7 linked regions of the Homo sapiens genome follow. The protein of the gene in region 1 purifies or fractionates together with the protein of each later gene. This does not show direct contact. Each region holds a gene or a part of one and is shown on either strand. Other genes may lie near its edges.

Evidence for each region.
Region 2: the proteins of FGD5 (region 1) and CKMT1B purify together in Homo sapiens (affinity purification with mass spectrometry, with the first as the bait; one large-scale study listed by BioGRID). This does not show direct contact.
Region 3: the proteins of FGD5 (region 1) and UACA purify together in Homo sapiens (affinity purification with mass spectrometry, with the first as the bait; one large-scale study listed by BioGRID). This does not show direct contact.
Region 4: the proteins of FGD5 (region 1) and LMO7 purify together in Homo sapiens (affinity purification with mass spectrometry, with the first as the bait; one large-scale study listed by BioGRID). This does not show direct contact.
Region 5: the proteins of FGD5 (region 1) and LRRFIP2 purify together in Homo sapiens (affinity purification with mass spectrometry, with the first as the bait; one large-scale study listed by BioGRID). This does not show direct contact.
Region 6: the proteins of FGD5 (region 1) and CDC42BPB purify together in Homo sapiens (affinity purification with mass spectrometry, with the first as the bait; one large-scale study listed by BioGRID). This does not show direct contact.
Region 7: the proteins of FGD5 (region 1) and SEPTIN9 purify together in Homo sapiens (affinity purification with mass spectrometry, with the first as the bait; one large-scale study listed by BioGRID). This does not show direct contact.

The regions. Positions count from the first base shown.
Region 1 is NC_000003.12:14,891,962-14,895,461, reverse strand, and holds part of FGD5 (FYVE, RhoGEF and PH domain-containing protein 5), read right to left. Parts: intron 1-3,500. UniProt on the Homo sapiens protein: Activates CDC42, a member of the Ras-like family of Rho- and Rac proteins, by exchanging bound GDP for free GTP. Mediates VEGF-induced CDC42 activation.
Region 2 is NC_000015.10:43,597,027-43,599,906, forward strand, and holds the end of CKMT1B (creatine kinase U-type, mitochondrial precursor), read left to right. Parts: intron 1-349; exon of another isoform or gene 350-1,166; coding exon 1,167-1,301; intron 1,302-1,800; coding exon 1,801-1,926; intron 1,927-2,130; coding exon 2,131-2,247; 3' UTR 2,248-2,380; downstream 2,381-2,880. Other genes in the region: STRC (stereocilin precursor), read right to left, coding at 2,646-2,734. UniProt on the Homo sapiens protein: Reversibly catalyzes the transfer of phosphate between ATP and various phosphogens (e.g. creatine phosphate).
Region 3 is NC_000015.10:70,683,559-70,687,058, forward strand, and holds part of UACA (uveal autoantigen with coiled-coil domains and ankyrin repeats), read right to left. Parts: intron 889-3,500; coding exon 707-888; intron 1-706. UniProt on the Homo sapiens protein: Regulates APAF1 expression and plays an important role in the regulation of stress-induced apoptosis. Promotes apoptosis by regulating three pathways, apoptosome up-regulation, LGALS3/galectin-3 down-regulation and NF-kappa-B inactivation.
Region 4 is NC_000013.11:75,856,330-75,860,366, reverse strand, and holds the end of LMO7 (LIM domain only protein 7), read right to left. Parts: intron 3,862-4,037; coding exon 3,759-3,861; intron 2,447-3,758; coding exon 2,424-2,446; coding exon of another isoform or gene 2,354-2,423; 3' UTR 501-2,353; downstream 1-500.
Region 5 is NC_000003.12:37,059,583-37,063,082, reverse strand, and holds part of LRRFIP2 (leucine-rich repeat flightless-interacting protein 2), read left to right. Parts: intron 1-3,500. UniProt on the Homo sapiens protein: May function as activator of the canonical Wnt signaling pathway, in association with DVL3, upstream of CTNNB1/beta-catenin.
Region 6 is NC_000014.9:103,047,550-103,051,049, reverse strand, and holds part of CDC42BPB (serine/threonine-protein kinase MRCK beta), read left to right. Parts: intron 1-3,500. UniProt on the Homo sapiens protein: Serine/threonine-protein kinase which is an important downstream effector of CDC42 and plays a role in the regulation of cytoskeleton reorganization and cell migration. Regulates actin cytoskeletal reorganization via phosphorylation of PPP1R12C and MYL9/MLC2.
Region 7 is NC_000017.11:77,287,999-77,291,498, reverse strand, and holds part of SEPTIN9 (septin-9), read right to left. Parts: exon of another isoform or gene 3,289-3,500; intron 1-3,288.

The sequences.
Region 1 (3,500 bases):
AGTCTCTTCCATAAATGGTGCTCGGAAAACTAAATAACTAAATGCAGAAGAATGACACTAGACCTCTATCTATCACTATACACAAAAGCCAAATCAAAATGGATTAAAGACTTAAATCTAAGACCTCCAACTATGATGCAACTAGAATAAAACATTGGGGAAATACCCTAGAACATTGGACTAGGGGAAGATTTTCTGCATAAGACCTCAACAGCACAGCCAATCAAAGCGAAAATAGACAAATGGGACTACATCAGTCTAAAAAGTTTCTGCACAGCAAAGGAAACAATCAACAAAGAGACAACCCACAGAATGAGAGAAAATACGTACAACCTATTCATCTGACAAAGGATTAACAACCAAAATATATAAGGAGCTCACACAACTCAAATAGCAAAAAAGCCCAAATAATCCGATTTAAAAATGGGCAAAAGATCTAAACAGATATTTCTCTAAAGAAGACATACAAATGGTCAATAGGTATATGAAAAAAGCTCAACATCATAATCATCAGAGAAATGCAAACCAAAACTACAAGGTATCATCTCACCCCTGTTAAAATGGCTTTTATCAAAAAGACACGCAATAACAGATGTTGGCAAAGATGCAGAGAAAGGGGAACTCTTGTCAGTGAGAATGTAAAATAGTACAGCCACTATGGAGAACAGTATGAAGGTTCCTAAAACACTAAAAATAGAACTACTGGGAGGATCACTTGAGGCCAGGAGTTCAAGACCAGTCTGGGCAACATAGCAAGATCTCGTATCTAAAAAAAAAAAAAAAAAAATTAGCTGGACCTGCACCTGTGGTCTCAGCTACTCAAGAAGCTGAGGCAGGAGGATCGCTTGAGCCCAGGAGGTCAATCCTGCAGTGAGCCATGATTGTGTCACTGCACTCCAGCCTGGGTGACAGAATGAGACCCTGTCTCAAAAAAGGAAAAAAAAAAAAAAAAAAAAGAACTAACAAATGCTCTAGCAATTCCACTACTGAGTAGATATTTAAAAGAAAGAAAACCAAATACATCAAAAAGATAGCTGCACCACCTTGTTTTTCACAGCACAATTCACAATAACTAAAGTATGGATTCAACCTAAGTACACCTCAACAGATGAATGGATAAAGAAAATGTGGCAATATATACACAATGGAATAGTATTCAGCCATAAAAAAGGATGAAGTCCTGTCATCTGCAGCAACACGGATGGAACTGAAAGTCATTATCTTAAGTGAATAAACCAAGCACAGAAAGACAAATATCGCATGTTCCCACTCATATGTGGTAGCTAAAAAAGTGGATCTCATGAAGATAGAAAGTAGGCTGGTGGTTACCAGAGGTGGGAAGGGGGTGGCAATGAAGAGAGGATGATTAATGGGTGCAGATATACATTGTGATAAAAGAAACAAGGCCGGCCACAGTGGTTCACACCTGTAATCCCAGCACTTTGGGAGGCAGAGGCAGGTAGATCACCTGAGGTCAGGAGTTTGAGACCAACCAGACCAACATGGTGAAACCCTGTCTCTACTAAAAATACAAAAATTAGCCAGGTCTGATGGCCGGTGCCTGTAATCCAAGCTACTCAAGAGGCTGAGGCAGGAGAATCGCTTGAACCTGGGAGGCAGAGGTTGCAATGAGCTGAGATTGCATGGCCACTGCACTCCAGCTTGGGCAACAGAGAGAGACTCTGTCTCAAAAAAAAAAAAAAAAAAAAGAAAAAAGAAAAGAAAGAAAAAGAAATAAGACCGAATATTAGATAAATCAGTACGGCAACTATAGTTTACGATAATGGACTATACATTTTGAAATAGCTAGAAGAGGCCAGGCATGGTGGCTCACACCTATAATCCCAGCACTTTGGGAAGCCAAGGCCGGAGGACTACTTGAAGTCAGGAGTTCAAGACTAGCCTGGGCAATATATTGAGACTCCGTCTTTACAAAAAATTTAAAAGGTTAGCTGGGCTTGTTGGCGCATCACTGTGGTTCCAGGTATTTGCTGAAGCAGGAAGATTGCTTGAGCCCAGGAGTTCCAGGCTGCAGTGAGCTATGGTCGTGTCACTGCACTCCAACCTGGTTGACAGAGTGAGACTCTGCCTCTAAAAAATAAATACATAATAAATAAATAAATAAAATAACCAGAAGAGAATAATTTGAATGTTTCCAGCATAAAGACAAATATTTAAGGTGATAAATATTCCAAGTACACTGATTTGCTCTTTACAAATTATATAAACATATTAAATGATCACATACCCTGAAACTATGTACATCTATGATGCATTTTTTAATAAATTAAAGAATAAAAATTTATAAAGATTTCTTTCTCACAAGAAAAATATTTTATCTTCAAATACATTTGCTCTTGCATGAGGCCTAGCTCTACAGCTGTAAATACACGGCTTGGGTGGGGGCAGGGAATCCTGAAACCACCTTGAGCTGTGGAGCAATGCATATTGGGAAAATCCCAGGGTCAGAGATCATGCACTCTTGCCCAAATGGAGAAGTTCAAATCACCCTCAACACTCAGGAAAGATGATTCCTCTACCTTGTTGGATTGTCTCCCTGATGGGGAGCTGGACTATGGGGCAAGACATTTCACCCCGCTACTAGACAGTTTTCTTTCTTTCTTTCTTTCTTTTTTTTTTTTGAGATGGATTTTTGCTCTTGTTGCCCAGTCTGGAGTGCAATGGCATGATCTTGGCTCACGGCAACCTCTGCCTCCCAGGTCCAAGTGATTCTCCTGTCTCAGCCTTCTGAATACCTGAGATTACAGGCACCTGCTGCCACGCCTGGCTAAATTTTTGTATTTTTAGTAGAGACAGAGTTTCACCATGTTGGCAAGGCTGGTCTCAAACTCCTGACCTCAGGTGATCTGCCCGCCTCGGCCTCCCAAAGTGCTAGGATTACAGGCATGAGCCACCGCGCCCGGCCTGCTGGACAGTTTCTACTGCTGGAAAGATCTTCTTTAGGCCAGATGCAGTGGTTCACATCTGTAATCCCAGCACCTTCAAAGGCCAACACGGGAGGATCGCTTGAGACTAAGAGTTGGATGGAGACCAGCCTGGGCAACATGGCGAGACTGCCAAAAATATAAAAAATTCTCCAGGCATGGTGGTGCACGCCTATAGTTCCAGCTACTTGGGACACTGAGGTGGGAGGATCATTTGAATCTGGGAGGTCGAGACTGCAGTGAGTTGTGATAGCGCCACTACACTCCAGCCTGGGTGATAGAGCTAGACCCTGTCTCAAAAAAATAAAAAAATAAAAAAAAAAGGTCTTTTGTATATAAGGATTGAAAAGTAGAAAGTGCCTGAGAGAGAGGATGGACAGCCCTTCCTCCAGGAAGCCTTTCTGGCCTTCTCTCCCCAAGTGAAGGCCAGAGGCTTTTCTACCCCTCCCTGCAGGGGAACAGTGAGGGGTAGAAAAGAGGACAGGGAGGTGGGATGGGACAGAGAGGGAAACGGGGAGAGAAAAAGAAAAACAAGGAAACAGATCCAGTGAACAG
Region 2 (2,880 bases), on another chromosome or scaffold:
ACTGGGGAAGGTGGAGGATAGAATGGTTCAAGTTCTAGAATATGTGGCTCTAGATGAGAGGTTGAACTGAATCATCAATCCTACATGGATTGGGTCTCCGTATTCAAGTCTACATTAGAAATCCCCATAAACTCAATTCAATTCTTACTGTATGTTCTCAAACATACAGTTCTATTTTAGGTTTGCAAAGAAAAAGAGCTCCTCTTTTAGATTCTGAGAAGTTTCTACTATTTTTGGCAAGTAATAGATAACATATTCTGACTATGAGTGGGTAGGGAAGTACCTTTAAATTATATGCCTCAGTTTCCTCATCTGTAAAATTGGGATAATGAGATTTTCTACATTTTAGGTTGTTGTGGGGATTAAGTGAAATACAGGTAAAGTACTTGGTCCACAGTAAGTGCTTAATAAGTGTTAAAGTGTTAGCTGCAATATTATTCTGGATGGAAGAGTTTCCCCCCATGTTCAGCATGTAAGATATCCCCTATGGCATGGTTCCTTCTGAACTATAAAGAGGATCCCTTTACTCATGTTGGGTTGTGGTCTTTGTGACCATCATTCTGCTAGATCCCTTGTCTCTTGAACTCTAATAGTCATCTTCATGACTACATGGTTAAGTGAAGCCAAACGCCTTCCCCCCGCCCCCTATTCCTATGAATCTGGCTTTTCTGCTCTGTTTTCATCTTTCTCTGCATTCACACAGGTGCTCCGTTCACAGCTAACAGAATGTTATCTTACCTCTTCCTGGCAAAGCTTACACCTTCATCTTCTGTCTGAAGGGACCCTTCTAAGCTCTAGGCTCATTAGCAAAGCAAAGATAATCGATGCATGCAGACCTCATTGAATAATCAGTCATCTCTCAGTTCAGTTTACCACCTCTGTTCATTTCCCTAGATCATCCTTAATACACCACTCCTTCGAGTTTTCTTCTTCCACATAAGATATTTTTTCACAATCTCATTATTATGCACATCATAATTTTGCATCATGCATGCATGAAAACAATAACAAACCTTTTTCATTTAAAAAAAGACCAATGTCATTCATTCACAGCCAAGTTTCTGTTCTAGACATATTTCTAGTGTTCTTGTGGGTCTAGCTAAGGGAGGGTCCAGGGTTAATGAAATATCCCTGATTTTTCGTTAACAAAACCTTTGTGGACTCAGGTGGAGAGACTTATCCAAGAACGTGGCTGGGAGTTCATGTGGAATGAGCGTTTGGGATACATCTTGACCTGTCCATCTAACCTGGGCACTGGACTTCGGGCAGGAGTGCACATCAAACTGCCCCTGCTAAGCAAAGTAAAGGAGTTGTGGGGTTACAGAGGGGTGTGAGTAAGGAAGGGTGGGTTGTGGATGGGGAGGGAGTGGACCCTTTGGAAAGGAGCCAAACATGTTGTGGCTAAAGGGTCAGAGGACAGGCCAGGCACAGTGGCTCATGCCTCTAATCCCAACACTTGGGAGGCCAAGGCAGGCAGATTACTTGAGCCCAGGAGTTCAAGACCAGCCTGGGCAACCTGGTGAAACCCCATCTCTACTACAAATACAAAAGTTAGCTGGGTGTAGTGGAGGCTGAGGTGAGAGGATCACTTAAGCCTGGGAAGTCGAGGCTTCAGTGAGCTGTGATCACTCCAGCCTGGGTGACAGAGAGAGACCCTGTCTAAAAAAAATTAAAAAAGAAAAAAGAAAAAAGGAAAAAAAAAGTTCAGGAGACAGAGCTCTGAGCAGGTTCAGGGCTCTTTCAGGTAGGACTAGTCTCTGCCTCTATTGACCCTGCTCCCAATCCCTATCTCCTCTCTAGGATAGCCGCTTCCCAAAGATCCTGGAGAACCTAAGACTCCAAAAACGTGGTACTGGAGGAGTGGACACTGCTGCTACAGGCGGTGTCTTTGATATTTCTAATTTGGACCGACTAGGCAAATCAGAGGTGAGATCCTAAGGGATTAGGACAAGGAGAGGTATAGGTCTGCGAGGGCCGAAATATGGCAGTGAGTGAGCCTCCGGGATGTAAGATAATCTGAAATGAAATTCAGGTTGAGTGGGGAGGCAATTGGAAATGAGCAGGCAAGTCAGTCAGTGATAAAGAAAAACTCAGACTGTAGGAAGCAGATCAAAGATTAGTGTCCCTTAGGTGGAGCTGGTGCAACTGGTCATCGATGGAGTAAACTATTTGATTGATTGTGAACGGCGTCTGGAGAGAGGCCAGGATATCCGCATCCCCACACCTGTCATCCACACCAAGCATTAACTCCCCATCGCCAGCTGATGACTCAAGATTCCCAGGAGTTCTGCTCATTCTAATGATGGCCCATTCTACTTGCTCTGGACCTGCCCCCGCATCCCCTGCCTCCATCCTAGTAAAGACTCCTTGCTATGCTGCAGCTGTCTGTGTTACTTCTAATGGTGGGGTGAGGAGGGAGCAGCCTTCAGGAAATGAAAAGAGGCAGTGGGATTATTTATGATGGAAAGAGACTCCAGATATGGCAACCCAGGAACACTGATTCTCAGGTGGGTGGAAAGCATTAACATTTTACCCATATTCCTCATCAGCTTCTGAAAATAATCAGGATGCACTTCTGTTTGCACTTTATTCATTATGACTTAAGATTTCTCTCCCCACAATCTCCTTCTACTGTAGAGACAGGCTCATAGCAGGTGGCCAAGGAAGCTGATAGTCAATACCAGGGACCAGGAAGGTCGTGACCAGTCCTGGAGGCCCCAGGCTGTACTTCGACCTATAATAGACAGGGAATGGGAGTAATATCACAACTCAGCTCTCCAGGAGCATTGATACTTGGAAATTAGCGCTCTGCCTGTAGACTCCTTCACTCCAGGGATCTCCCTGGGTGCACTCTAAGAGCCAGACAGCACCAAATTAGGG
Region 3 (3,500 bases), on another chromosome or scaffold:
TTATAAATAGCTTAAACACTACATGTAGAAAACTGCTTTATTAAATGAAACTTAAATAAATGGAATCTCATACACCAACAAAAATCATACTATAGAAAAACTATTTTTGAGGGAAAGGCCTTCAAAATAGGTTACATAAAAAAGTAAGCTACAATTCAGATTTACAGTGAATTCAATTTAATGGGAAAAGACTAGAAGGATATTTCTCAAAATGTTAACAGAGGCTTCTCAGTGGTAATGAGTGACTATTCATTGTGCTTTTCTGTATGTTCCTGTTTTTTTTAAAAAAAACATAAAAAATCATGGCATAGGCATTTGGTAAATATCAGCTGACTATTTTACATACATGTTTAAACAATGATTCTTTAAAACTTCGTAAGTATAAAAAGTTGGGAGGTTCACCCCTCTTCATCAAAAAAAAAAAAAAACTTAGTAAAACACTTGACTCTTCCTTCTCAGTTCTGAAGTTATTCCAGTGTCTTAGTGTTCACTGGATAAACTAGATTATATATGCAACACACACTGCCTCAAAGCAAGTGACCATAATGTAAGTAAGCAAATCCATGTTGTAGAGGGAGATGAACCAATACTGTTTATCAGTAAGGAATGTTTTGCTTCTTATAAACTGTAGTTCTACTACCTAAGTCTTTTAAAAAGTGGCTCTTTGTTAATGTGGACTTTTCTAGTTACAGAAAACTGCTGATACCTTTGTTGGTATTTTCCGATGCAGTCTTCAACAAGGTTAGAATGTCCAGATTGTCACCAATTCTTGCATAGTAAGAACTATCATGGCCAAGCGCATCCAGCAAGCTTATATCAGCACCATTTTTAATTAAGACTTCTACTGCATCTCTGCAACCATATTCGCAACCTAGCATGAGGGCAGTTCTAAATGGAAAAATGGAAGAGCAAAAGACTGAGAAAACTCCAAGGAAATATTGCAGAAATATTCTGCCCTATTGTTGAACACTGTCTTAGTGTTCACTGGATAAACTAGATTATATATGCAACACACACTGCCTCAAAGCAAGTGACTATAATGTAAGTAAGCAAATCCATGTTGTAGAGGGAGATGAACCAATACTGTTTATCAGTAAGGAATGTTTTGCTTCTTATAAACTGTAGTTCTACTTGAACACTAAGTTCAAGTAAGTGTTCAACACTACTTGAACACTTACTTGAACACTAAGACATGCTCCCTTCTTGAAGAATAGACACTACTTTAAGAAGTCATGCCTGTTACAGATATAGATTTTACTTTATATTCATTGCATTTATAAAAACATTTGCTTTGTCTTCTATATCCTTATATCCTTTAATTACTTCTACTACCAAACCAACCTCATTTATTCCACTTCTTCAATGTCCTACACGTAAATAATCACCACAAAAATTTTCCACAACTGATACTGTCACCCCATGTGATCAAAACCCAACTTTTTCAGTCCCTTCATGAACTGAACCACATCATGCAAACCTCCCCTAAGAATCCCTTCTCCTCCAAGAGAAGTATCAGATTCCATTCCTGATGTTCCTGCTTAGAAGAACCTTGATTCTTCTACCTGAAGACCTTCACATCTTCAGACTACAACTAACGCCATGCAACATGGATCATTGCTTTATTCTATTGCAATAGAACCACTGGCACTCAAACATCTCACAGTACATCAGCAAATACTAATCATGCAACAAAATAATTGTCATGAAAATCTAGAAGGACCCTAGAAATTATTTTGTCTAATCCTCTATTTTTTAGGATGGGGCTAACCAACACGTAATGAAATGAAATGACATATCCTATATCTAACTCTGTCTTCAATTGTGAATATTGGATCTCTTAAGGAAACTGACTCTTGCCTTTTCTCTGCTATGTATGCTGTGTTTCTCATATTCAAGCCTTGTCCCCCAACTCCCCTGTAGTTGCTGATAAGAAATTCTGTACAAAACAGGCATTAACAAAGTTTTTGTTATTTAAAAAATGCTACATATAAAACAGGAAAAAAAGAAATGAATATAGAGTATTAGAAACTAAGGTTATAAATTATGTTGAAAACCATATGCTATTTAGTCTATACAATATACACTGCCCTGCTTCATTGGCTTTTTGTGAATGCCCAATGAAAAAACATAGATAAAGTGCTTTGAAAAATGTGAGAGCTATAAAAAATATAAAGCACTGTATGTAGATCAACCAGATTATCCCTCTGTGATCCTAAAATTAAATTTAACTTTTTTTTTTTTGAGACAAGAGTCTCGCTCTGTTGCCAGCGCAGTGGCATGATCTCAGCTCACTGCAACCTCCGCCTCCTGGGTTCAAGGAATTCTCCTGCCTCAGCCTCCTGAGTAGCTGGGATTACAGGCACGCACCACCACACCTAGCTAATTTTTGTATTTTTGGTAGAGATGTGGTTTCGCCATGTTGGCCAGGCTGGTCTTGAACTCCTGACCTCAAGTGATCCGCGCCCAGCCGTAAAATTTAATTTTAAAATCCAATTTTCTTCATCATGCTTGGAATCAGATGATAGTATCCACAAAAACAAAGTAATATTAAAAAGCCACTTCTTAATCACATCTTTTTTTTTTTTTTTTAATATTTAAAGAGGTTTATTCTGAGCCAAATGTTAGCAACCATGGCCCATGACACAGCCTCAGGAGGTCCTGAGAATGGGTGCCGGAGGTGGTTGAGTTACAACTTGGTTTTATACATTTTAGGGAGACAAAAGTTACAGGCAAAGGTATAAATCAATACATATAAGGTATACATTGGTTTAGCTCAGAATGTCAGGACATTTCAAAGTAGGGGCTTCCAAGTCAAAGATTTCCTGATTGGGAATTGATTGAAAGCATTAAGCTTTGTCTGGAGAATTGAAGTCAATATAAAGAAATGCTTGAGTTAAGATAAGGGGAGTTGTAGAAGCCAGGGTTCTTTTTTTTTTTTTTTTTTTTTTTATACTTTAAGTTTTAGGGTACATGTGCACAATGTGCAGGTTAGTTACATATGTATACATGCATCATGCTGGTGTGCTGCACCCATTAACTCGTCATTTAGCATTAGGTACAGAATTTCCTCCTTTGAGATGCATAAAGAAAACAATTACAGCTATAAAATCTGACAACTAAAGACTATTTTTTATACTTTTATACTTCTAATAAACTACAAACAATAGAATACATGTTTGGAAGAATAAAATTAAGTCAAAAGAAACCAAAATTTTTACTAGTAACTACAAAAATCCCAGAAATTTTAGTTTAATTTATTGTAATACTTGAATTAAATGGAAGGGGTGTGTTTCAGATACTTTGTGACCATAAACTTCAGAATTGTAATACAACAAGCACCATGATACATTAGACCTACAGACAGAGATAGGGAGAATTCTGGATAGAAATTATTAGAGCACACCAACTAAAATAGTATCAAATACAGAAGCAAAAATAAAGCAAGGGACCTCTGCAGTACAGAAATGGACAGGTTCAGAGTAGGAGATGGCACTGTACCC
Region 4 (4,037 bases), on another chromosome or scaffold:
ATTTGTTCTTTGTTGCTCTCATCGCCACCTGCATGTTATTTTTTCATGTATTGTTTTATCACCTCCCTCAACCAGAAAAATAAGACCAATCAGAGCCAAGACTGTATTTCTTCACTGTTCTACCCATGGTGCCAAAAGCAGTGCCTGGAGCATAAAGTATGAATTAAAAAATTTGTTGAAGGGCTGGACTCTTCCCTTGTTCCTAGGTGAAGTAACAAATACCCAAGGGCTTATACAAATGTAGAGCCGGTATCCTAGAAGAAAATAGCTCTGAAAACTGTACTTATAATTTGTACTAACAGAAATGTTATCACTAAGTAAGATAATGTGAGAAATGGGGGAAAAAATCATAAGAAAACAAGAGCAGATGAAAAGACAAAAGGCTTAGATGAAAAGGAGCAATGGTCAGAAAGGATTTTGGATAAGGAAACGAAAATGATGGCAGAATTAAGGCATCCTCTGGGGACAGTGGAAAACAGAATTAACAAGGCAGAAATTGATAGTGGTTTCTTCATTCATTTATTCAACCACTGCATATTGAGGGCTGCCTCTGCATACACATCAGGCAGAGAACAAGGCAAAAGAACTGTATCTTCATAAACATGCAGTGAGATGAACAAGCCCACGTGCTGCTTATAGGAGTCGAAGCCAGCAGTGCCTTTCTGGAAACCACTTTGGCAATATATACTATGAGTGTCTTAAAATGCATAATCTCTGAGCAACTATTTCATGTCTATGAAAATAATATAAAGAAAGAGATGATCATAGAGTATCACAGAATTTACATATTTATATATAACATGCACATATTAAAATGTTTGATCTTAGAAACAAGTGAAAAATACACAGTAATGGAATTATCAACTAAATATTACCAAGGCCAAACAATGGAGCACTATGCAACCATGAAAAAAGATAAAAATAATTTTAAGAACATGGAAAAATTCACAATCTATACTTATAAATAATTATATGCAGAATGAATTCAAACACAGAGTTCTTGTCTTTGGAATTTGGGATTCAGAATTATATTCTTTATGCTTTGGGGCATTTGACAAGTTATCCTCAAGGAACACATTATTACTTTAATAATAATCAGAATAAGTACTAAATAAAATTTTTATCTCCCACATTAGCATTTCTTACATATTTTGAACCTATTCCAATACAGTTCTCAGTTCCTAGAATCCTCCATTCCACTTACATTATTATAAAAGATTCCAGTAAGTTTAAATTTTTGCTCAAAGCATGCTAAAGTTTTGTATCCTTGCATTCCCGCTCCAGATTTTTTAAACAAGAGACTACATTTTTTGCTTTATAGATATTCTAAGCTCACTGTTGTCTTCTCCTTTTATCATGGGGTTAGTAAAAGATTTTATTCAAATGATCCAACAATTCATCACTCTCACCATACAAATATATTGTATCCAAAAACATAACTTTATCAAAAATAAACTTCCTTATTAAAATGTTTCAGTAAACACATCCAGACTGTGGCATAGTTTCGAAGGTATACACCATGTCAAAATTTGTCAAAGTATACACTTTAAATATATGCAGTTTATTACATCAATTATACCTTAGTAAAGCTACTGGATAAAACATAACATCAAAAAAGGCCACATACTGAAATATGGCTAAAAGGCCTGAGGTCAGACACATACACCTAAGAAAAAGACGACCCACTCGTTAAATGCATCAGCAAGTTTATTTACAAATGCAATTGAACAGAAAGGCTCACCAGTTTCTGAAGAAGACTTCTAGTATACAAACCATGGTTATTTTTCATTAATGAAAATAAGCAGCTTTCTATTGGGAATTACTTAGCAACATTTCTGGTAAAGAAAATAGAGCTCCCTTCATCAAGCAAATAAATGGTACATTAACTGCATTTTTAAAAATCAGAATAATAGGTAGAAGGAAGGATACAGAAAGCACATTTGGGGATAGATTTTAATGAAATTTTCCATATGGTTCTGCATTAATTTAGAATACATTACAATAAACAGAGCAAATGCAATTATGTATTTATATTAACTATTTCAAATAATGTTTAAGAACCTTTTTTTAAAAAACAATAAAATACCCTCTTCAAAACACCACTAACTAGAAAGTCAAACTAGATCATTATCTGCCTCAAAAATATTCGTAGGTTCTTATTTTTTCCCTTGTGCTCTCAAGATGCTGAATTCAACAGGTAAATACTGCACTTTTCCCCACACACAATTACCTTATAAATAAACAACAAAAATACTGGTTCTACCAAGACTACAATGCTTCTATGTAATCTAAAGAGGCAAAAAAAGTTATTCTTTTTTTTAAAAAAAAAGCAAAAAAGACATACAACACATATTTATAGATCTACATGAGCAGCAACCACCTCTTCTTCTATCTGCAACAGTGCTTTCGTATGGAGGCTTACATCACATGGCGGTTGGCCGTCCAGCTGATCGGGCAAGGAGAAAAGAAAGAAAAGTGCTTAGATTCAGAAACGTGAATATTGCCATCTGGGATACATAGCAGTCATCACTCAGAAAGTGGCCCAATGAGGTAGAAAGAGTAACCTGTCACTCACTCTTAGGATAAAGCTAGGCAAGTCTCAGTGTCTCGTCTCTGGAATTCTTTATTTGTAAAAATGGAGTAAAAATGAACTGCTCACAATAGAAATAAATTACACTCAACTCTCTATTATTTGTTTTGGAGGAGAGAAAAGGCATGGGCAATTTTACAATGGTGATTCCAGAAATCATTTCTATTTGGCTTTGGAATTTGATGAGAGAGAGAAAAACACACACACATACACACACCCCCCACCAGTACATGCCCAGCCTTGACTTTCTCCAACCTCAGTGTCAGCATCCAGGAAAGGACTGGACAGCTGCAGCAGGAAGGCTCAGAACCCACCGACAGATAAAAGAGAGTTGACTGGGCTTAAACCATTTCCAAAGCACTCTTCACATAGGGGCCATATAAATACCTCAGAGTTCAAAAGCAAATGATTTTGCTGATACCACTTGTAACACCCTTTCACAATAAGGAAGAAACACATGTTACCAGCATCAAGGTTTAAAATATAAAACAGCAGTAATACTTGTCTTGCTGTAGCTATACACAACACACAACCTAGTTATGCTAGCCTACCTTTTATAACACACAAACACATGCTTAGATGCAAAGTAGCATTTGAAGTTTTTTGAAAAACTCATTTTTTCCAAAAATGACACTGAAACACCATAGTTAATACTTTCCTTTTAAAATTATATATTGACATATATTAACATAAAGCATAAACTGACTTATTTTGTATTACATGGAACAATATTTTTTAAAGTTGGTCATATTCTAAATCACATAATCAAAGCCCATTGTTAAATAATAGAAGTTGATGAGGGACCAATCTTTAGTCAAGAAACAAATCCTACATAGAAGATTCATTTAAGTGTTTTGGTTTGTTTGTATTCTTGAGTCATTAAAGGTCTCTGCGGACTCTGGGCAGATAACACAAGACACCATCCTGACTTTTGGACACTGTTCCTCTCCATTCCTTGGCCCCACAACCCACTCCTGTGTAGCTGGAACCCTGAGCAGTGACCCATTCACTATACACACTCTTTGAAGGGAACACACTACAATTCTTGAAACCTGGAATCCTATGGCAGTGAACTTGGAGGGGAGCTCGCTGCAGGTTCAGGGAAATGCATGGGAACCCGTGGCCTCCTTAAAAGGCAAGAAATTTTCTCTCTGATTTGCTCTCTTACATTTGAATCTGAGATAGCAGTCGTTGCAGTACAGTTGGTGGTTTCTGATCCTGACTTCAGCTCCTGAGGAAGAGCCTCCGAGGTCACACTCACAGGCAACACACTGGGGAACAAAAAAAAAAGAACATCTACAATCAGTCAGCTCAAGAAAGCTTGGGGCACTCCTGGGGGTGGGGGGGAAATGAGCAGAATGCTACTTCTAAGCTCTTAGATACATTTCAGCAAAGAAAAAAAAAGGCCGAAAGATGATTAGTAGATTCAAATCAAGACCGCCAGATA
Region 5 (3,500 bases), about 22 Mb from region 1:
CCAAGAGTAGATTAATCCCACTCAGTATTTTCAGATGCATCTGGTGTTATTTCAGTTCCAGTTTGTTGAATCTTGGTGCATCTGACTTGTCCCTTTCTAAACTAGTGACTTGCCCTCTCGGTACATAGATGTGGTCACCCTTCATTGGCATCTGGAGATTTTCTTTGCATGTGATTTAGGTTGGGTTCCCTTTTTCCGGTGTCTCATGCCTTTCTCCTTATTTATTCTCTTATTTTGGTACATCTTCCAGTAGCTTCCTGAGAAGAGGGTTTGTGGATTGTTAATTTTTCATGACCTTGCAGGCCTGAAGATGTCTTCATTCTACCCTCTCACTTGATTAAAATAGTTTGGCTGGGTAGAGAATCCTGAGTTGCCATGGTTCTCCTTAAGATTTTTTAAAAGGACATTTCTTCATTGTGCTGTGACTTCGAGCATGGCTGTTGAGTTTTCATGAACATTTTGAGTTCTGATCTTTTCTGATTTGTGATCTATTTTTCTCCTCTTTGTGGAAGCTTGTATCCTATTCTCTTTCTCTCTAGCATTCTGGTGTAATTTGAAGATAGTCATGTGATTTGAAGTTTTCATGTGTGATGCTGGGCCCCTGTCAATTCTAGGAGCTCCCATCCTTTAGTTCTGGGAAAATTTCTTGAATGATTTTGTTACTGATTTTTTTCCCCTCCCATATGCTGTGTTCTCTATTTTGGAACTCCTATTCAGTCATTCAACAAATGTTGAGTGAGATTCTACTATTTAACATGCACTATTCTAGGCACTGGGATATTTCAGTGAATAAATTAGTTTAGAAAAAAAAAATTCCTGCCTGAGAGGCATTCTAGTAGGAAGACATCAGACAATATTATATGATATGTTAGAAGGTTTGTGTGAATGCATTTATTATATGTGTTTCTCTGGCTACTTACAGCAGCATAGGGGCAGGCATGGAGTGGGTAGAGAGCTAGATTTTACTAGGACAGTATTAATGGGGCAGGAGAGGTGAGGGAGTATGTAAGAAAATGATTATAATGATGGACCTTGAAATTAAACTGGATGAAGAGGATTCGGGAGATATTCAGGAACACATCAAGGTATAGTAGAAAGAAGATGTAATCTGTAGATTAGTGGTACCAGTGTGGTTGAAGGGTTGTTGGAATTCGGGTCTAGAGAGAATGACCTGGAAAGATGAGGAATAGTGGTTAGAGAGAGGATACATGGAACTAAATTGTGTAGGGATTACAATTGTCTAATGATGAGATCTGGTATATGACTGTGGGAGTGAGTAGCTGAGGGCAAGAAGGGATAGATAGCAAGATCCTTGGAAGGGAGGTGGGTTAGTCCATTTTTTGCTTCGCTATAAAGGAATACCTGAGGCTGGGTAATTTATAAAGAAAAGATGTTTGACTGGGCACAGCAGCTCATGCCTGTAATCCCAGCACTTTTGGAGGCTGAGGCAGGTGGTTGAGGTCAGGAGTTGAGACCAGCCTGGCCAACATGGTGAAACCCCAACTCTACTAAAAATATACAAAAATTAGCCGGGCATGGTGGTGGGTGCCTGTAGTCCCAGCTACTTGGGAAGCTGAGGCAGGAGGGAGGTGGAGGCTGCAGTGAGCCAAGATTGCGCCACTGCACTCCAGCCTTGGGTGGCAGAGTGAGACTTTGTCTCAAAAAAAAAAAAAAGGAAAAAAGAAAAAGAAAAAGAAAAGAGGTTTAAACTGGCTCATGGTTCTGCAAGCTGTAGAGGAAGTATGTTGTCAGCATCTGCTCAGCTTCTGAGCTCAGTTTCCTGAGGCCTCAGGCCAGGCTGGTCTTGAACTCCTGACCTTAGGTGATCCACCCACCTCGTCCTCCCAAAGTGCTGGGATTACAGGCATGAGCCACCGCGCCCAGCCAGCCTCAGGAAACTTCTCATCACGGCGGAAGGTGAAGGGGCAGCAGGCACGTCATATCTCGAGCGGAAGCCAGAGAGAGTGGGGAGGTAACATACACTCTTAAACAACCAGATCTTGTGTGAACTACCAGAGCGAGAACTCACTCATCACCAAGGGAATGGTGCAAAGCTATTCATGAGGGATCTGCCCCATGACCCAGATACCTCCTGCCAGGCCCCACCTTCAGCACTGGGGAATACATTTCAACATGAGATTTGGAGGGGACAGACATCCAAACCGTAAGAGGAGATATACCAGAAATTGAGAGATCATTTGTAAGGGAGATCCTCTACTTAGATGTACATTGAAATTGCCAAAAATTAAGACAGGAATAGTCTAGAGGGAGTGCAAGTTGGGAGCTATTTAATAAATGGTGATGAAGGAATGGGATTTTGGCAATGATAAGTAGTTAGTGTATATAATTTGAAGAGACGAGATTAAGACCTGGGACTTTTAGGGAAGATGGAGGGAAAATACCAGCAAGGAAAGCAAGAGGACACCTATTCCATTTCTAGATTCAGTGGTAGGAAGCTGTGGAAGTACAAAAAAAAAAAGGGCCGGGCATGGTGGCTCATGTCTGTAATCCCAGCACTTGGGGAGGCCAAGGTGGGTGGATGACTTGAGGTCAGGAGTTCAAGACCAGCCTGGCCAACATGACGAAACCCCATCTACTAAAAATACAAAAATTGGACGTGGTGGCATGCACCTGGAATCCCAGCTACTCGGGGGGCTGAGGCAGGAAAATCGCTTGAACCCGGGAGGCGGAGGTTGCAGTGAGCTGAGATCATGCCACTGCACTCCAGTCTGGGCCACAGAGCGAGACCCTGTCTCAAACAAACAAACAAAACAAAACAAAACAAAACAAAAACAGTGTTTGAGAGAGCTGCAGAAGCAGCAGGAGAGGGTTATCAGAGCACGAGGGTAAAGGGGGGATGCTCAGAAAAGACTGAGGACAGAGGGTGTTTGCTGATGATGGACTGATAATTCTAGAGGGCCCAGTGGAAAAGTTTCAGGCATTGGGAAAGGTTAGGAGATGAAGGTTAGTGGTCGTACAGACCCTTGTGAGGAAGACTGCAGAGGAAGGATATGACCCTTTGTGAGATGCACATAAATAGGAATGATGGAGATACTGAGATTTGTCCTGGTTCCCTCAAGGCAGCTAATGATGGTGACCCTGTGTGTTGAAAGGGCAGAGGTGCCTGGGAAGTATAGAGTTAGTCCCAATATAGAGCTTACCCTTTTCCCATTGGGGAGTGGCAAACTTAATCTTAGTGCAGAGGCCTCCCTTTGACCCCTGTTGGTGGAGTTAAGGACAGCTGGGGAAGCCATCTCTATGTATCCAATTATTATTATTATTATTTTTTTTTTTTTTGAGACAGAGTCTCGCTCTGTCACCAGGCTGGAGTGCAGTGATGTGATCTCCACTCACTGCAACCTCCACCTACCAGGTTCAAATGATTCTCCTGCCTCAGCCTCTGGAGTAGTTGGGACTACATGCGCGTGCCACCATGCCCCACTAATTTTTGTAGTTTTAGTAGAGATGGGGTTTCACCATGTTGGCCAGGATGGCCTCGA
Region 6 (3,500 bases), on another chromosome or scaffold:
TAGGTAACAGTGGCAACAAAATTGTTTTTTGATTAAAACTGCAAAAAATCGATGTGTAATAGAGAACTTCTTTGGATTTTTGTTTTTCTTAGGAATTAGAAATTCAAACATAAATTTGAATGGAATGATATAATTTCATTCAAATTCGGTCCTTGGATTGGAGAGTCTTTGGAGAACATTTGGGACCTATTGTAAGGTGATTCCCAGTGTTAATTTAGGTGATGATTTCCCTGACCTCCAAAATTGCAGAGTCATAGGTTGGAAAACTGTTAAGAATTTTTTTTTTTCCCCCCAAGACAGGGTCTTGCTCTGTTACCCAGGCTGGAGTGTAGTGGCTCTGTCATGTCTCACTGCAGCCTTGACTTCCCAGGCTCAGGCAGTCCTCCAGCCTCAGCCTCCTGAATAGCTGGGACAATAGGCATACACCGCTACACCTGGCTAATTTTTTATTTTTTGTGGAAACGAGGTCTTGCTGTGTTGCCCAGGGTGGAATTGAACTCAGGCTCAAGTAATCCTCCTACCTTGGCCTCCCAAATGTTGGGATTATAAGTGTGAGCCACTGCGCTCCGCTATGTTAGGAATTTGGGGAGGTCATGTTAACCTGCCCTCCAGCCCACTCCCCACTCAGGTTGGGTAAACCAGGTTCTGAGCATTTTCCCTAACCGTTTCTGGGCAAACAGCCCTCTAACCAGCATTTCTGTCCTTCACAGGACTGCGGTCAGCCTCAGGCCTCCTTGCAGGTGCCTGCTTTGAAATATCTTTATTTTATTTTAGCCTTTTCTTTCTATTCTCATTGTCAGGGACCTAGGTAAAGCTCTCAGGTCCTCAGGCCTAAATGAATGCCTTTCCCACTTGAAGTTTTAAATACCTCTGCCAGATCAGTCTCAAACTCTCTTCATCACTCTGCCTTTCCAAAACTACAATGCCTTCATATTCTGTTGCCTTTAAAATAAAAAGTCTGATATCCACAATTCAGTATTAGAATTTGAAATTGACCCCAAAAGACGCATCTAATCTTAGCTTTAGAAGTTAAGGTTATGGCCGGGTGTGTTGGCTCATGCCTGTAATCCCAGCACTTTGGGAGGCCGAGACGGGTGGATCACAAGGTCAGTAGTTCAAGACCAGCCTGGCCAACATGGTGAAACCCCGTCTCTACTAAAAATACAAAAATTAGCCGGGCTGGTGGCGCACGCCTGTAATCCCAGCTACTCAGGAGGCTGAGGCAGGAGAATCACTTAAACCCGGGAGGCGGAGGTTGCAGTGAGCCGAGATTGTGCCATTGCTCTCCAGCGTGGGCAACAAGAGCAAAATTTTGTCTCAAATAAATAAAAAAAGTTAAGGTTAACAGCACTTCCCACCATGCCCCATGGGGTGATTTTCTTTTAACATCATTTAACTTTTATCAATGTAATGCATTTACTTAGTTTTGGAAACTAAGCGGTACTACTGGGTTGTAGTGCAAGACAGCAGTCCCTCTACCAGTCGCTTGCTCCGCGCTCCAACTTCCCACAGACTACCACTTTTAACTGCTCTGTTTCTACTTATCATTTTAGTTAGGATCACATTTAGCTGCCAGTAATGGAGAACAAAGTGACAGTGACTTAAATAAAATCAGGTTGATTTCTCTCACGTGAAGTTGACGTGTCAGCAGTCAGTGCTAGTTGGACAGCCTTGCTCCAAGAGGCCTCCGGGGCTGTGGCCTTTTCCCACCCTCAGGCCACCATCTGAGACGGTGGCCATCCCACCCTCCTTCAGCCAAGCAGGCCGGGGGTGGGATGTTACTATAGAAGATCCTTGGATATTGGTGGGTGCTTAGCAATGCCTGCCTTAAATTTCATATTTCTGTGTAGCATGCTGGTACTGCTAATTTCTGATTTTACCATTTTAGACATTGCTGACTTCTGCTGTAGAAGAGGCCTTAGAACTGTTCTACATTGTCCCTCCACTGCCTGAAACACATTCACCCCTTGCTCTTTTTCTGTGTTCCAAATATGTTTATATAATTTTGTTTAAATTGGTAATTCAGTGTCTGCATTCTTATTGTTAGGTAACTGTCTTCACAGCTAAGCCATGTAAGATACAGTTTACTAAGGGAAATAGTTTTGTGTTATTGGAGTGAATTTTCTTTATTTTCTTTTCTTATAATAATCCCATGGAGTAAATTTTTTTTTTTTTGGAGATGGAGGCTCATTCTGTTGCCCAGGCTGGAGTGCAGTGGCATGATCTTGGCTCACTGCAGCCTCCGCCTCCCGGGTTCAAGTGATTCTCCTGCCTCAGTCTCCCGAGTAGCTGGGATTACAGGCACCCACCATCACACCTGGCTAATTTTTTTTTTTTTTTTTGAGACGGAGTCTTGCTCTGTCGCCCAGGCTGGAGTGCAGTGGCCCGATCTCGGCTCACTGCAGGCTCCGCCTCCTGGGTTCACACCATTCTGTCTGAGCCTCTCGAGTAGCTGGGACTACAGGCGCCCGCCACCATGCCTGGCTAATTTTTTTTTTTTTTTTTTTTTTTTTTTTTGTATTTTTAGTAGAAACAGGGTTTCACCGTGTTAGCCAGGATGGTCTCCATCTCCTGACCTCGTGATCCACCTGCCTCATCCTCCCAGAGTGCTGGGATTATAGGCGTGAGCTACCGCGCCCAGCCATGCCTGGCTAATTTTTGTGTTTTTAGTACAGATGGGGTTTCACCATGTTGGCCAGGCTGATCTTGAACTCCTGACCTCAAGCAGTCCGCCCGCATTGGCCTCCTGAAGTGCTAGGATTACAGGAGTGAGCCACCGCTCCCGGCCGAATTTTCTTTAGCTTGGTTTTCAATGTACAGTCATGAATTTAGTGCCAGGCTTTTAACTAGAACTCCTCCATTAAACACCTCACATAATCTTATCACCTTCATCCCTTCCAGGCCTGCCACTTTTCTGTTTCAGCCTGGGCCGGGTGTCCTGCGGGCCTGCTACTGAGCAGTCCTCCTTGGAGTGCTTTTCATTCCTTGCAGGGATTCTTCGTGTCTCTTTCCTCTGTTGAATTCCCCTTTCTGGATTCTGTGTCTTTCATCTTTTGGTGGAGTGAATCTTCTAGTAGCTTCCTGAGAAAGAATTCATCGGAGGTGAATTTTTTGAACCAGGTCTGTCTGAAAATGCTTTTTTTTTTGGACACAGAGTCTTGCTCTGTTGCCCAGGCTGGAGTGCAGTGGTGCAATCTTGGCTCACTGCAACCTCCACCTCCCGGTTCAAGCAGTTCTCCTGCCTCAGCCTCCCGAGTAGCTGGGACTGCAGGTGCACACCACCACACCCAGCTAATTTTTTGTATTTTAGTAGAGACAGGGTTTCACCATGTTGCCCAGACTGGTCTCGAACTCCTGAGCTCAGGGAATCTGCCCGCTTCGGCCTCCCCAAGTGTCAGGATTACAGGCATGAGTCACCATGCCTGGCTGAAAATGCCCTTTCTTCCCTCACATTTGAATGGCACTTTGCCTGCGTACAGAATTCTAGGTTGGAAGTCATT
Region 7 (3,500 bases), on another chromosome or scaffold:
CACCATGCCCAGCTAATTTTGTAGTTTTAGTAGAGACAGGGTTTCTCCATGTTGGTCAGGCTGGTCTCGAACTCCCGACCTCCTTGGCCTCCCAAAGTGCTAGGATTACAGGCATGAGCCACCGCGCCCGGCTGCTACAAAAATTTTTTAAAAATTAGCCAGGCATGCCAGGCGCGGTGGCTCCCACCTGTAATCCCAGCACTTTGGGAGGCCAAGGCAGGTGGATCACGAGGTCAGGAGTTTGAGACCAGCCTGACCAACATGGTGAAACCCCGTCCCTACTAAAAATACAAAAATTAGCCAGGTGTGGCGGCACATGCCTGTAATCGCAGCTATTCAGGAGGCTGAGGCAGGAGAATTGCTTTAATCCAGGAGCCGGGGGTTGCAGTGAGCCGAGATTGCACCACGGCACTCCAGCCTGGGCAACAGAGTAAGACTCTGTCTCAAAAAAAAAAAAAAAAAAAAAATTAGCCAGGCATGCAGCGCACACCTGTAGTCCCAGCTACTCAGGAGGCTGAGAAGGGAGGACCAATTGAAACTGGGAGGTCGAGACTGGGAGGTCATGATCACGCCACTGCACTCCAACCTGGGCAACACAGCAAGACCCTGTTTAATAATAATAATAATAAATAATGCAAGTGGGTATAAGAATTTATTTATTTATTTATTTATTTATTTATTTATGAGACAGGGTCTCACTCTGTCGCCCAGGCTGGAGTGCACTGGCGCAATCTCGGCTCACTGCAAGCTCCGCCTTCCGGGTTCATGCCATTCTCCTGCCTCAGCCTCCCGAGTAGCTGGGACTACAGGCGCCCGCCACTGCACCCAGCTAATTTTTTGTATTTTTAGTAGAGACGGGGTTTCACCATGGTCTCGATCTTCTGACCTTGTGATCTGCCCGCCTCGGCCTCTCAAAGTGCTGGGATTACAGGTGTGAGCCACCGCTCCCGGCCCTAAGAATTTATTTTATCCCAGCACTTTGGAGGCTGAGGCGAGTGGATCACGAGGTCAGAAGATTGAGACCATCCTGGCTAACATGGTGAAACCCCGCCTCTACTAAAAAAATACAAAAAATTAGCCGGGCGTGGGGGCGGGTGCCTGTAGTCCCAGCTATGCGGGATGCTGAGGCAGGAGAATGGTGTGAACCCGGGAGGCGGAGCTTGCAGTGAGCGGAGATCGCGCCACTGCACTCCAGCCTGGGCAACAGAGCGAGACTCCATCTCAAAAAAAAAAAAAAAAGAATTTATTTTAAGACAGCAAGCTCTAGGGTTGAAGCCAGTCTCCACCTAGCCCCAGGCCCAAAGCTATAAGCATGGCTACTGTAACATCTTTACTCAGGACACCACCCTTCAGGGGCCCAGACCCACACCATCAAGGAGGAGCGTCCACACCAGCAGCTGGGGAGAGGGTGGTTCCCTACAAGATGCAATGTCCACTCTGAAGAGCCATTATAGTGATAATCATGAAATCCATGCCTGAGATCTAATTTCAAGTGAAAAGAACAGAATTCAACATTCATTCTATGGGGAGTATAAAACTCTGAAAATATACGCCTTTCATAATTAAATCAAACCCTATGTCATGTTCCTGAGGAGACAAGCACTGAATGGAACACAGAAGAAATGCTACAGCCAATGATTGTTGAAGTTTTCCTTTCAATTTCCTGTTCATGTTGTTTGGCAATAAGTAATACAGAAAACTGACAACAAAAAGCAAAAGAGAAAGAAAAGATACAGTGTACAGTTTAGATTGCTTTCCTTAAAAAATTAAATAATAATAATAAAAAGCATAGGCCGGGTGCGGTGGCTCACGCCTGTAATCCCAGCACTTTGGGAGGCCAAGGCGGGCGGATCACCTGAGGTCGGGAGTTCGAGACCAGCCTGACCAACATGGGGACACCCCGTCTGTACTAAAAATACAAAATTAGCCGGGCATGGTGACGCAGGCCTGTAATCCCAGCTACTTGGGAGGCTGAGGCAAGAGAATCGCTTGAACCCGGGAGGTGGAGGTTGCAGTGAGCTGAGATCGCGCCTTTGCACTCCAGCCTGGGCAACAAGAGCGAAACTCCATCTCAAAAAAAAAAAAAAAAAAGCATAAATGCAAGCTGGGCGCGGTAGCTCATGCCTGTAATCCCAGCACTTTGGGAGGCCGGGGCAGGTGGATCACCTGAGGTCAGGAGTTTGAAACCAACCCGGCCAACATGGCGAAACCCCATCTCTACTAAAAATACAAAAATTAGCCAGGCATGGTGGCGCGTGCCTGTAATCCCAGCTATTCAGGAGGCTGAGGCAGGAGAATTGCTTGAACCCAGGAGGCAGAGGTTGCAGTGAGCCAAGATTGAGCCACCACACTCCAGCCTGGGTGACAGAGTGAGACTCCGTCTCAAAAACCAAACCAAACCAAACCAAACAAAACAAAAAAAAGAAGCGGCATAATACAAAGTCCCGGCAGTTAAAGCGTTAACCCCCAGCTACCAGGAAGGCTCTGCTATCCAATGACTCATCGCCCCAGCCAAGGTCAGCCACACCTTGGGTCTCTGATGCTGGAGGCAACATGATGCCAACACTGGCGAGAAATCCACCACCTCCTCCTCCCCGCCCCTCGGTGCCGGCCTCTGTGTGCACTTGCAGCTCTTCCACTACCGGTGCCTCCATGGTGTCTACGCCACCGGCTCACCTCCCAGCAATAACCCGACAGCCCGACACCTCTGTAGACCCTGTGGCTACAGAGCTAAAGTTCCCTGTTATTAGTGGGTTTTGCAGACAACCCTCCAAATCCCTCTGGGTTGAGTTAGTCAAGTCCTTAACAAGCTGGAAGATGACAGGGGTTGGATGTAACCCACTTCCAACTGGCTTGGGTTACATGGACATTATTCCTCTTCTGGGATCTGATTTGGGATGGAAACAGGAGCCATAGTTCATGGGAAGGCTGTGAAAGGAAGCCCCGGCCCCAGGGTGCGGATCAGGTTGATCTGCGGAACAAGGCCCCAGGGGCGGCCCACCCGCCTGCTCTGCCCAGCCCTTCCTGGTAACCACACTCACCCGGGGCCCATCTCAAACCTGGCAGGCAATGCTGCTGCTCCCATCTCAGCCGCTGCCCCAACACGCCTCGCCTGGCCAGGACAGGTGCCCAGGCATGGCATTCAGGGACATCCTCGGCTTCCGGGGCCCAACCCCTGGTTCCCAGGTGCAGCGCTGGGAAAAGCAGAGGGCCCCGGCCATGGCGCAGGCCTCGTCACAGGTCATTTAAGCAGCCTGGGAGGAGCCGGAAAGAGAGCAATGCACCCACCTGGACAGAGACTGAAGCCACATCCCCATTGAGAAAAGATGACACTCCTGCCTGGACCCCTTCTCTGAAACCCCAGGCCGGGGTGGGGTAGGAGTCAGCGAGAGAGTCCAGCGCTCCAAAGGGGACTTTCTGGCCCTCCGTGCCCCCTAACCCAGCACTTCTGGGGACCCACACACTCAGGGCAGAGTGGCCATCCAGGGTTCCTCTCACCC